Linked DNA regions of Homo sapiens. The protein of the gene in region 2 interacts with the protein of the main gene of each other region in a pairwise test. Each region holds a gene or a part of one and is shown on either strand. Other genes may lie near its edges.

Evidence for each region. Proteins that work in one complex are often made in the same cells at the same time.
Region 1: the proteins of MAPK6 (region 2) and WWC1 interact in a two-hybrid assay, tested with the Homo sapiens proteins (one large-scale study listed by BioGRID and IntAct).

The regions. Positions count from the first base shown.
Region 1 is NC_000005.10:168,426,751-168,431,182, forward strand, and holds part of WWC1 (protein KIBRA), read left to right. Parts: intron 1-1,282; coding exon 1,283-1,391; intron 1,392-1,956; coding exon 1,957-2,037; intron 2,038-3,386; coding exon 3,387-3,473; intron 3,474-4,432. UniProt on the Homo sapiens protein: Regulator of the Hippo signaling pathway, also known as the Salvador-Warts-Hippo (SWH) pathway.
Region 2 is NC_000015.10:52,042,293-52,047,553, forward strand, and holds part of MAPK6 (mitogen-activated protein kinase 6), read left to right. Parts: intron 1-461; exon of another isoform or gene 462-541; intron 542-1,485; exon of another isoform or gene 1,486-3,372; intron 3,373-3,537; 5' UTR 3,538-4,168; coding exon 4,169-4,723; intron 4,724-5,261. UniProt on the Homo sapiens protein: Atypical MAPK protein. Phosphorylates microtubule-associated protein 2 (MAP2) and MAPKAPK5.

The DNA of each region.
Region 1 (4,432 bases), on a different chromosome or scaffold from region 2:
CATGCCCTGGACTCTGTGCCCCTCAATGCTGCGAGCCCTTGCCCTGCTCCGGTCTGCCCGCAGGTGCTCAGAGGTGTTAGCTGTGAGGTTGTAAGATCTGGATCTGGCCTTCCCCGCTGCAAGGAGGGCAGGAATTGTCTTATTCATCTTTGTAGTTCTGAACATGGCAATGGGCCTGGCACATCGTGAGTGATCATTACTTGGGCAAGGAAGGAATGTGCAGCACGTGTTGAGTGCTTAGTTATGAGCCTCAGATCAGAGACTTTCAAGGGCCCCTGTTAAGGTTAGGGAAGAGGAGGAGCTGAATTCGGAGTGGAAAGGGATAGGCAGTGGAAGAACGGGTGCTTAATCTCTCCCTTCTCTGTCCTGAGGGTCCAGGGGCTGTTATTTTGCCCCAGGTGGGTAGGGATGGATCTGTTAGGTTGATGCAAAAGTAATTGCAGTTTTTGCCATTGAAAGTATGGATATCTACAGTGATAGGAACAGTAGTGGCAATAAGGATAGTTGTAATGAGTTTTGCAGAGCACTTTGCCTGCCTGCACCAATCTCTATATTAAGGACTTCCCTTATAATGTCTCGCTGAGTCCTGTCAACAGCCCTATAAGTAGGTATTATTATCCAAGTTTTACAAATGAGGCATCTGAGGCTTAACAGGATTAAGTCAGTATCTCAAGGTCATGAAGCAGTGAGTGGTGGAGCCGGATTTGAATCCAGGCAGTTCGACTCAAGAGCCTGGGATGGTAAAACACAAAATCACATGTGACTCCTTCCATCACCCTAAAGCAAACTTTTTTTTAATTTTTTTTTTTTTTTTTTTTTTTTGCTTTAGCATTTAGAGGTGGTTGGAATTTGGTGGAACCGTCTGTCTTCCATAGAGAGTGTATCAAAATTGGGAGTTCAGGCTCCCCGAATCCCAAAGTGTTGGGATTACAGTCGCTGACGCCTGTAATCCCAACACTTTGGAAGGCCAAAGCAGGCAGATCGCCTAAGACCAGGAGTTCAAGACCAGCCTGGGCAATATGGCAAAACCCCATCTCTACAACAAAATAATAATTCAAAAATTAGCTGGGTATGGTGGCACATGCCTGTAGTTCCAGTATTTGGGAGGCGGAGGTGGGAGGATCACCAGAACCCGAAGTGGTCGAGGCTGCAGTGAGCCATGATTGTGCCACTGCACTCCAGCCTGGATGAGTGAGACCCTGCCTCAAAAACAAAACAAAATTGGGAGTCGCAAAGGCAGTTTCCTGGTTCCTGAACCTGCCTTTCCATTTTCCTTCCCTAGCTGTGAATACGGCCCAGGGGTGTGGCCTGAAAGTGGCCTGTGTCTCAGCCGCCGTATCGGACGAGTCAGTGGCTGGAGACAGTGGTGTGTACGAGGCTTCCGTGCAGAGGTAGGTGTCTGGGTGCTGGCTCTCTCTGTGGCCCTGTAAGCCATGAACTCTGAATATCCAGAGCCTAGGCCTGTGGAGAGGCTTAGGTTTTGGCCCCCACAGTGTGTGGGAGGAGCCCCAAGAGGGCATGACCCCACCTTCCTCTTGGCTGCCCAAGGCACAGACAGCATAACTTTTCCTGGGGTTAGAGATGCTTCAGGTTTGGGGGAGTGCTAGTTCTGTGGTAGCTACGAAAAAGGTATATGGCTAAGGAGCAAGCACTAGAGAAAGGGAAGGCCCCTTAAGAGAGGAGTCCAAGCTGGGCATAGTGGTGTGAGTCTGTAATCCCAGCTACTTGGGAGGCTTCAGTGGGAGGATCACTTGATACAAGGAGTTCGAGACCAGCCTGGGCAACATAGTGAGCCCCCATCTCTAAAAAAAATTTTTTTTAATTAAAATTTAAAAAAGGACCTGAAGGGAAGCTGAGCAAACCCCAACTTTCCTTCCTGGGGATGTAACCTCAGCCTCCCAGAATAGTTTGTTCACTGTAGGGAAGCCTAACTCCTCCTCCCCTGTTGCCTTTCAGACTGGGTGCTTCAGAAGCTGCTGCATTTGACAGTGACGAATCGGAAGCAGTGGGTGCGACCCGAATTCAGATTGCCCTGAAGTAAGTGACGAGGACGAGGAGGACAGAAGGAACGGTCTGTGTGGGGTCCCTTCTTCATCCACAGCGTTCCCCAGCATTTACCTTCACAGCCGCCCAGGGTGGAAGGCAGCACCAGCAGGACCTGCTGGCCATTGCAGCTTCTTAACTGAAGGGATGCTGATTCGTTCCTCACCTCCCAGCCATCCGCTTTACAGATAGGAGAAATGAGGTTGGAGAAATGGGGTTTTAAAAGACCTTATGACTTGGCCCAACTCACTGAGCTGGCTGGTAGCAGAGCCAGGACTGGGACTGAGACCTCCTGCCTCTCAGTGTGTTTGTTCATTGTTGCTGTGGCTTTTGTCTTTCCATCCCATCTAGGTTTCATTGATCTGGATGGAAGTTGATCACTGGGGGCTGCAGCCCAGATTGGGTCAATACACACATGGTTGTTCTTTTTGTTTTCTTTTGTTGGGGGATGATATGATCTCAATTTTTTTTTTTTTTTTTTTTTGAGACAGGGTCTCACCTGTCACCCAGGCTGGAGTGCAGTGGTGTGATCTCAGCTCGCTGCAACCTCTGCCTCCTGGGTTCAAGCGATTCTCCTGCCTCAGCCTCCCAAGTAGCTGGGATTACAGGTGTGTGCCACCACGCCCGGCTAACTTTTGTATTTTTAATAGAGATGGAGTTTCACCATGTTGGCCAGGCTAGTCTCAAACTCCTGACCTCAAATGATCTGCCCGCCTTGGCCTCCCAAAGTGCTGAGATTACAGGCATGAGCCACCACACCTGGCCTTCAATATTTTTTAATAGGAATTAGTTGACAACATTTCCATATCATGAAATTTCACCCGCATTTATGGGTTCTTTTTAAAAATTCAGACAACTGGCTGGGTGTGGTGGCTCACACCTTTAATCCTGACACTTTGGGAGGCTGAGGCAGAGGAATCACTTGATTCCAGGAGTTCAGGACCAGCCCAGGCAACATGATGAAACCCCATCTCTACTAAAAATACACAAAATTAGCTGGGTGTGGTGGTGAACACCTGTAGTCCTAGCTACTTGAGAGGCTGAGGTGGGAGGATCACCTGAGCCTGGGAGGTCGAGGCTACCATGAGCCCCGATCATGCCACTGCACTCAACCTGGATGACAGAGTGAGACCCTGTTTCAAAACAAAAAAAAAATTTTCAAACAATTGGCAGCTCTAGCTCTACATCCCTGCATGGCAGCAAAGCACTGGGCCTGTGCTCTAGAGCTCACCATAGGCCCCAGGGCAGCCAACAGCCACGTCCTGTGACTTTTAATGGAGAGAAGGAATGAGAGAGATGAGTGTGTTACTAATAGGTACTTCATATGCCCCTTTTCATTTCAGGTATGATGAGAAGAATAAGCAATTTGCAATATTAATCATCCAGCTGAGTAACCTTTCTGCTCTGTTGCAGCAACAAGACCAGAAAGTGTGAGTATGTAGCTGGACAGGTGTATTTCATACCCTAACCCTCTGGAGTTACCCCTGGGGGTCACTTTTCTGCCCTGTCCTGATCCAGTTATGGGCCTTGTCAAGGCACTGTGGGTTTGTACTGCATATGACTGTGATGCTGAATGTCGGTGCTGTGCATGTGAATACAGGCACAACGGCAAGCACACCAACTGTAAAGACAAGCACTCTCTAGATGACTGTGTGAATTCCTGCCCCATTACGTGCTGAGCACCTGCTGCATGCCAGCTCTAGGAATGGGGTGGTGAGCAGATCCTTCCTGGGCCCTACCCTCCTGGACTTTGAGCCTCATGGAGAAGAATGGTCACAGTCTGTTTTATCTTCTCCTAAGCTCAAGTGTTTCTTGCAGAGAGAGATAGGTCTTCTGTTTCCAAGAGTCAACACCAGTCACTGCTTCTCTTGGAGGGGTGTGACTGCGTGTTACCTTGATGCTGGTAGGATGCAAACACCTGCTCTGTCTGCCTGTGGGCTCCTCCCATGGTAGATGGGTTTATCCTTTATTGCACTCATCTGCCTCCAAGTTTTCTCTGATCGTAAGGCCTGGAGGGTGGCAACAGAAGCTTATGTGTCTGTGGTCTACACTCAGCCAGCCTGTGAGGGTGGCACATGTGGGAAGAAGAAAGGGCAGGAAGGCGGACAAAACGGAAGGAAGACAAGATGGGATGCTTGGGTCAATTTCAGTCTTCTGCCCACACAGACAGTGCCAGGCTGAATAGCCTCCTCCATAGCTCACTGGTACTCATGCAGGGGCATCTGTGGGATAATGCCTAGAAGTGAAGGGTCTGGACCAAAGGACAAATGCATCTGGAATTTTGTTCGATTTGTCAAAGTTCCTTCCAGTGTATAGGGGCCTGATTCCCCAGATTCCTCACTTCTACAAACTCTCATCCACTGTTGTTTGCTTAGGGATTTCAGCAGCT
Region 2 (5,261 bases):
CATTGTCTAGTGGAATTACAGTTTGTTTTATAAATACTACCTTCTCTTGTTACAATGTATAGTCTTCATCATCTGAGCACATAGTGATGACTCTGCAGTTCTCAGTGTAGGCAAAGCTCCTACCTTCCCTAGTATCACTTTTTACCCACTCTTACCTCGTTAAGTGCTGACCAGTCACTGAGAATTCTGAAAAGGCACTCGCATCCTTGAAGTTTCTAGTTTGTGAGGCTTGGTCTCAATAAAATTTAAGGGGGGCAGATGTGGATGGGGGTCTTGAGTAAGGATCTCTCATTTTCATGGCTTTCCTAATCTGGCTACAACTCCTACTATAGTGCTATTCTGTCAGATAACAGTGGTGTAATTTTTGACAAAGCATTATTTGTGCTTGACTAGATTGCTGTGAACTAGAAGTTTGAGAGAGAACTTGGAGATCTTACTGTTCTCATTTCATTTGTCTATAGAACTGACTTTACAGTGTACATTTATCAGAAATGTAAAACATGACTGAGCTTTAAGGAATTGTCTACGTTAAGGCAAGAAGGTAAGCGTGAACAAGCATTCTATTTCAGGTAGAGACTAGAGATGTAAAATTTAGGAAATAATGGAGCCTTTGAGAAATACTGGTTTTCTTGACCAGCCTGGGAAACATAGTGAAACCCCGTCTCTTCAAAAAATACAAAAATTAGCCAGGTGTGGTGACTCCTGCCTGTAGTCCCAGCTACTTGGGGGGCTGAGGGGCTGAGGTGGGAGGATTGCTTGAGCCCAGAATGCAGAGGTTGCAGTGAGTGGTGATCACGCCACTACACTCTGGCCTGGATGACAGAGCAATACCCTGTCTCAAAAAACAAACAAACTGGTTTTCCTAGGGTATTTAGTGGGGAGCGAGCAGGAAGAATCAAGATGTGTACAAACAGAAAAAACTTGGTGGGAGGGAGACATGCAGTATTAAAGCCCTTTTTAAAAATCTGAAACTTTTTTACCAATACAAAAATTATTTTTATTTTTTATTTATTCATTTTTTTTGAGACGGAATCTTGCTCTTTTGCCCAGGCTGGAGTGCAGTGGCGTGATCTCACCTCACTGCAACCTCCACCTCCCAGGTCCAAGCGATTCTCTTGCCTCAGCCTCCCGAGTAGCTGGGATTACAGGCACCTATCACCACGCTGGGCTGATTTTTGTATTTTTAGTAGAGACGGGGTTTCTCCATGTTGGTAGGCTGATCTCGAACTCACGACCTGAGGAGATCCACCTGCCTTGGCCTCCCAAAGTGCTGGGATTACAGGCGTGAGCCACCGCGCCTGGCCACAAAAATTTATTTTTATTACTTATTTCCACTATCACATGAGCTAGATCATATAACAACATTGAAAATCCACTGGCTAAAGACCAAAGACAGACTAATGGCTCAGCTAGATAATAGCAAATGATATGTTGGACTTAAGTTGTTTGATTTTTTTTTTTTTTTTTTTTTTTTTTTTTTTTTTGAGGCAGAGTCTCGCTGTGTCCCCCAGGCTGGAGTGCAATGGCAGGATCTCGGCTCACTGCAACCTCTACCTCCCTGCAACCTCTACCTACCTGGTTCAAGCGATTATCCAGCCTTACCCTCCTGAGTAGCTGGGACTACAGGCATGCGCCACCACGCCTGGCTACTTTTTGTATTTTTAGTAGAGACGGGGTTTCACCATATTGGCCAGGCTGGTCTTGAACTCCTGACTTCGTGATCTGCCTGCCTCGGCTTCCCAAAGTGTTGGGATTACAGGCGTGAGCCACCGTGTCCGGCCTTGAGATATTTTTTTAATTCAAAAGTTTATTCACAAACTTCAACTTTTAAGTGTTTTATTACAGATAGACTGGTAAGCTACAGAATTTTTAGGACTTTTTTTTTGGGGGGGCGGGCTAGGAGGGCTGATTTCTGAGAAGCAGAGAAAAACTTGTAGACAGGAGAAGCCGTTTCTGTTACAGTAAAATAAAGCTATTATACTATTAGTATCCTTCATGATATTAAGCAGATACAAGACCCGTTCTTATTTATTAAAAGAACTGAGGGATATAGTAAGTATCAGTTTTTATTAAAGCTGTCTTTCTCCTATTGGACAATGAGTTGCGTTTACTGAGGGCCAGAATCCTTTTGCTCATATCAGGTTTGCTCCTGCCTAGCATATAGTAGTTGCTCAATATATGTTTATATATTAAACGAATAAATTGGTGGCTTTATTCTTTCTGCCTAAAATATTGTCTGGTCTTATTTGTTAGGAATTCTGACCACCTGATTTTCCATAATGCCTCATATCTGGTATTCTGGGTACTCTGCAATTAGGCCATTAAGAAACTGAAAGAACCAAGTTGCATTTTTTTTTTTCCAGGCTGGCTAGGGAACCATCTACTGGAGTTGAGGCTATTTTTTCCTGCCCTTTTATAGGATATTTTTTAAAGTATGAAATATTTTAAGTGTACAGAGATCAATATAATGAACCTTCATATACATACCACCCAGCTCTATAAGATTCTAGTAATCTGCCATGTTTGTTATTTTAAAATAAATAACACATTAAAACGCAGATAAATGATTCTGGTCTCTTTCCTTAATCTCCGGGTAATCATTATGAATTTGGTATTTGTCTCATTTTTTTTTCCTTTTTTTTTTTTTTTTAGTTTTGCAATATACATATGTACTTACCAAAAAAAACTATTTTGCATGCATATAACTACTTATCTGTTCTCCTATTTTATGAAGTTGAGGTTGTTTCTAATTTTCTTTACCAAAAAAAAATGAGCATTTCTCTAGGGAGTTTACTGTGAAGAAAAATGGCCGGGTCATAGAGTACGCTATTTATTTATTCATTTATATGTTTATGCCAAATTGCTCTGAAGTTTTTACTAATTTAAACTCCAACCACTATTGTGTGAAAGTTTGTTTTTCTACACTCCTCAGACTTGACATTAACAGAGATGCATGTTTTTTCAATCTGAAATGTTCTCTTAAGGTAATCTTTTCCTATCAGTCACATTAAATACCTTTTCATAGGTATTATTCATTGTTCAAGTTTACTCTTATAAGTTGAAGAACATTATTTGCATATTTGTGCTGTTAGATTTTTGTTCATTGGATATTGATAGGCATAGTTAATAAGTAAACATGCTTTTTAACAAACTAACACATTGCAGGCTTCTTCTATATTCTTTTAGATATTTAGATAGATGTTACTAACGTTTTACCCCTCACAAAACTCAAGTTCTATAAAAATATTATGAACCTTCCCATACTTGTTGGCATTTCAGAAATGGTACAACCTAATGAGCCTGTTACCAAGAATCTAGTGTAGTGAAATCTGGAGCCCGGGCCAACGTGTGTGAATTGCTGATAACATTTTTGTAAGCTATTTTTGATTAAGGGTAATTTGTCACTTAATGACCATAATTAAGTTTAATGTACCAGTAGTAGTTTATTGCTAAATGCCTACTTTGTGTCATACTACAAATTTGAAGAAAAGAGTATTTCCTGCAATGGTGACTCTCTTCTTTTTCTCATCCCCCCAGGTTGTATCAGAGTAAGATGGACGGTAGCTTTGATTGTGATTGTGGTGAGCTGGAGCCACCTGATCACTAACAAAAGACATCTTCTGTTAACCAACAGCCGCCAGGGCTTCCTGTTGAAATAAATATATAGCAACAAAGGAAAAAAAGAAGCAAAACGGAAATAGTGCTTACCAGCACCTTAGAATGATGCTGCTCAGGACCAGTCCAACACTGAATGTATCTGCACTGTGAGGAGAATGTTCATAGAAGCCTGTTGTGTGCATATTTATTCACATTTTTGTTAAATGTTAAATCGTTTAGCACGGTAATCTGAGTGCACAGTATGTCATTTCATTCCGTTTGAGTTTCTTGTTTTCGTTAAATGTCTGCAGAGTTGCTGCCCCTTTCTTGAACTATGAGTACTGCAATCTTTTTAATTCTCAATATGAATAGAGCTTTTTGAGCTTTAAATCTAAGGGGAACTCGACAGGCCTGTTTGGCATATGCAATGAACATCAAGAAACCATCTTGCTGTGGAAGCATAATTATTTTTCTTCTCCCTTTTTGAAAGATCTTTCCTTTTGATGCCAGTTTTCTTCCTTGTTTACACAAGTTCAATTTGAAAGGAAAAGGCAATAGTAAGGGTTTCAAAATGGCAGAGAAATTTGAAAGTCTCATGAACATTCATGGTTTTGATCTGGGTTCTAGGTATATGGACTTAAAACCATTGGGTTGTGGAGGCAATGGCTTGGTTTTTTCTGCTGTAGACAATGACTGTGACAAAAGAGTAGCCATCAAGAAAATTGTCCTTACTGATCCCCAGAGTGTCAAACATGCTCTACGTGAAATCAAAATTATTAGAAGACTTGACCATGATAACATTGTGAAAGTGTTTGAGATTCTTGGTCCCAGTGGAAGCCAATTAACAGACGATGTGGGCTCTCTTACGGAACTGAACAGTGTTTACATTGTTCAGGAGTACATGGAGACAGACTTGGCTAATGTGCTGGAGCAGGGCCCTTTACTGGAAGAGCATGCCAGGCTTTTCATGTATCAGCTGCTACGGGGGCTCAAGTATATTCACTCTGCAAATGTACTGCACAGAGATCTCAAACCAGCTAATCTTTTCATTAATACGGAAGACTTGGTGCTGAAGATAGGTGACTTTGGTCTTGCACGGATCATGGATCCTCATTATTCCCATAAGGTATGTATAGAAAGCCAGCTGAGACAGATCTTTAAACTGATACACCTAATCAGGAATAGGTACTTATATTTTCTTTGTATATTGTGGCAGAATTTTTAATCTTATTAAACTTTACATAGTGCCTTTTTTCTGAAACAAGTCTCTCTGTTTGAAATGAAGGTGGAGTGGGATAATTAAATACAAATTTCTAAAAATACATGGTTATTATAATGAAATTTTAAAGTGTATGGTTATTTATTATAAATGAAATTCTCCCTTAGTTATTTAAAAGTGGAATATACTCTTCTTTCTTTGGGACAGAATTGTGGTAAGAGGGGATGCTATTTCAACTTTAGGTCTTTTGTTTTTGAGACAGAGTCTCACTCTGTCACAAAGGGTAGAGTGCTGTGGCGCCATCTCGGCTCACTGCAACCTTCATCCCCTGGATTCAAGCGATTCTTGTACCTCAGCCTCCCAAGTAGCTGGGATTACAGGTGCGTGCCATCATGCCCAGCTAATTTTTTTGTATTTTTAGTAGACAGGGTTTCACCGTGTTGGC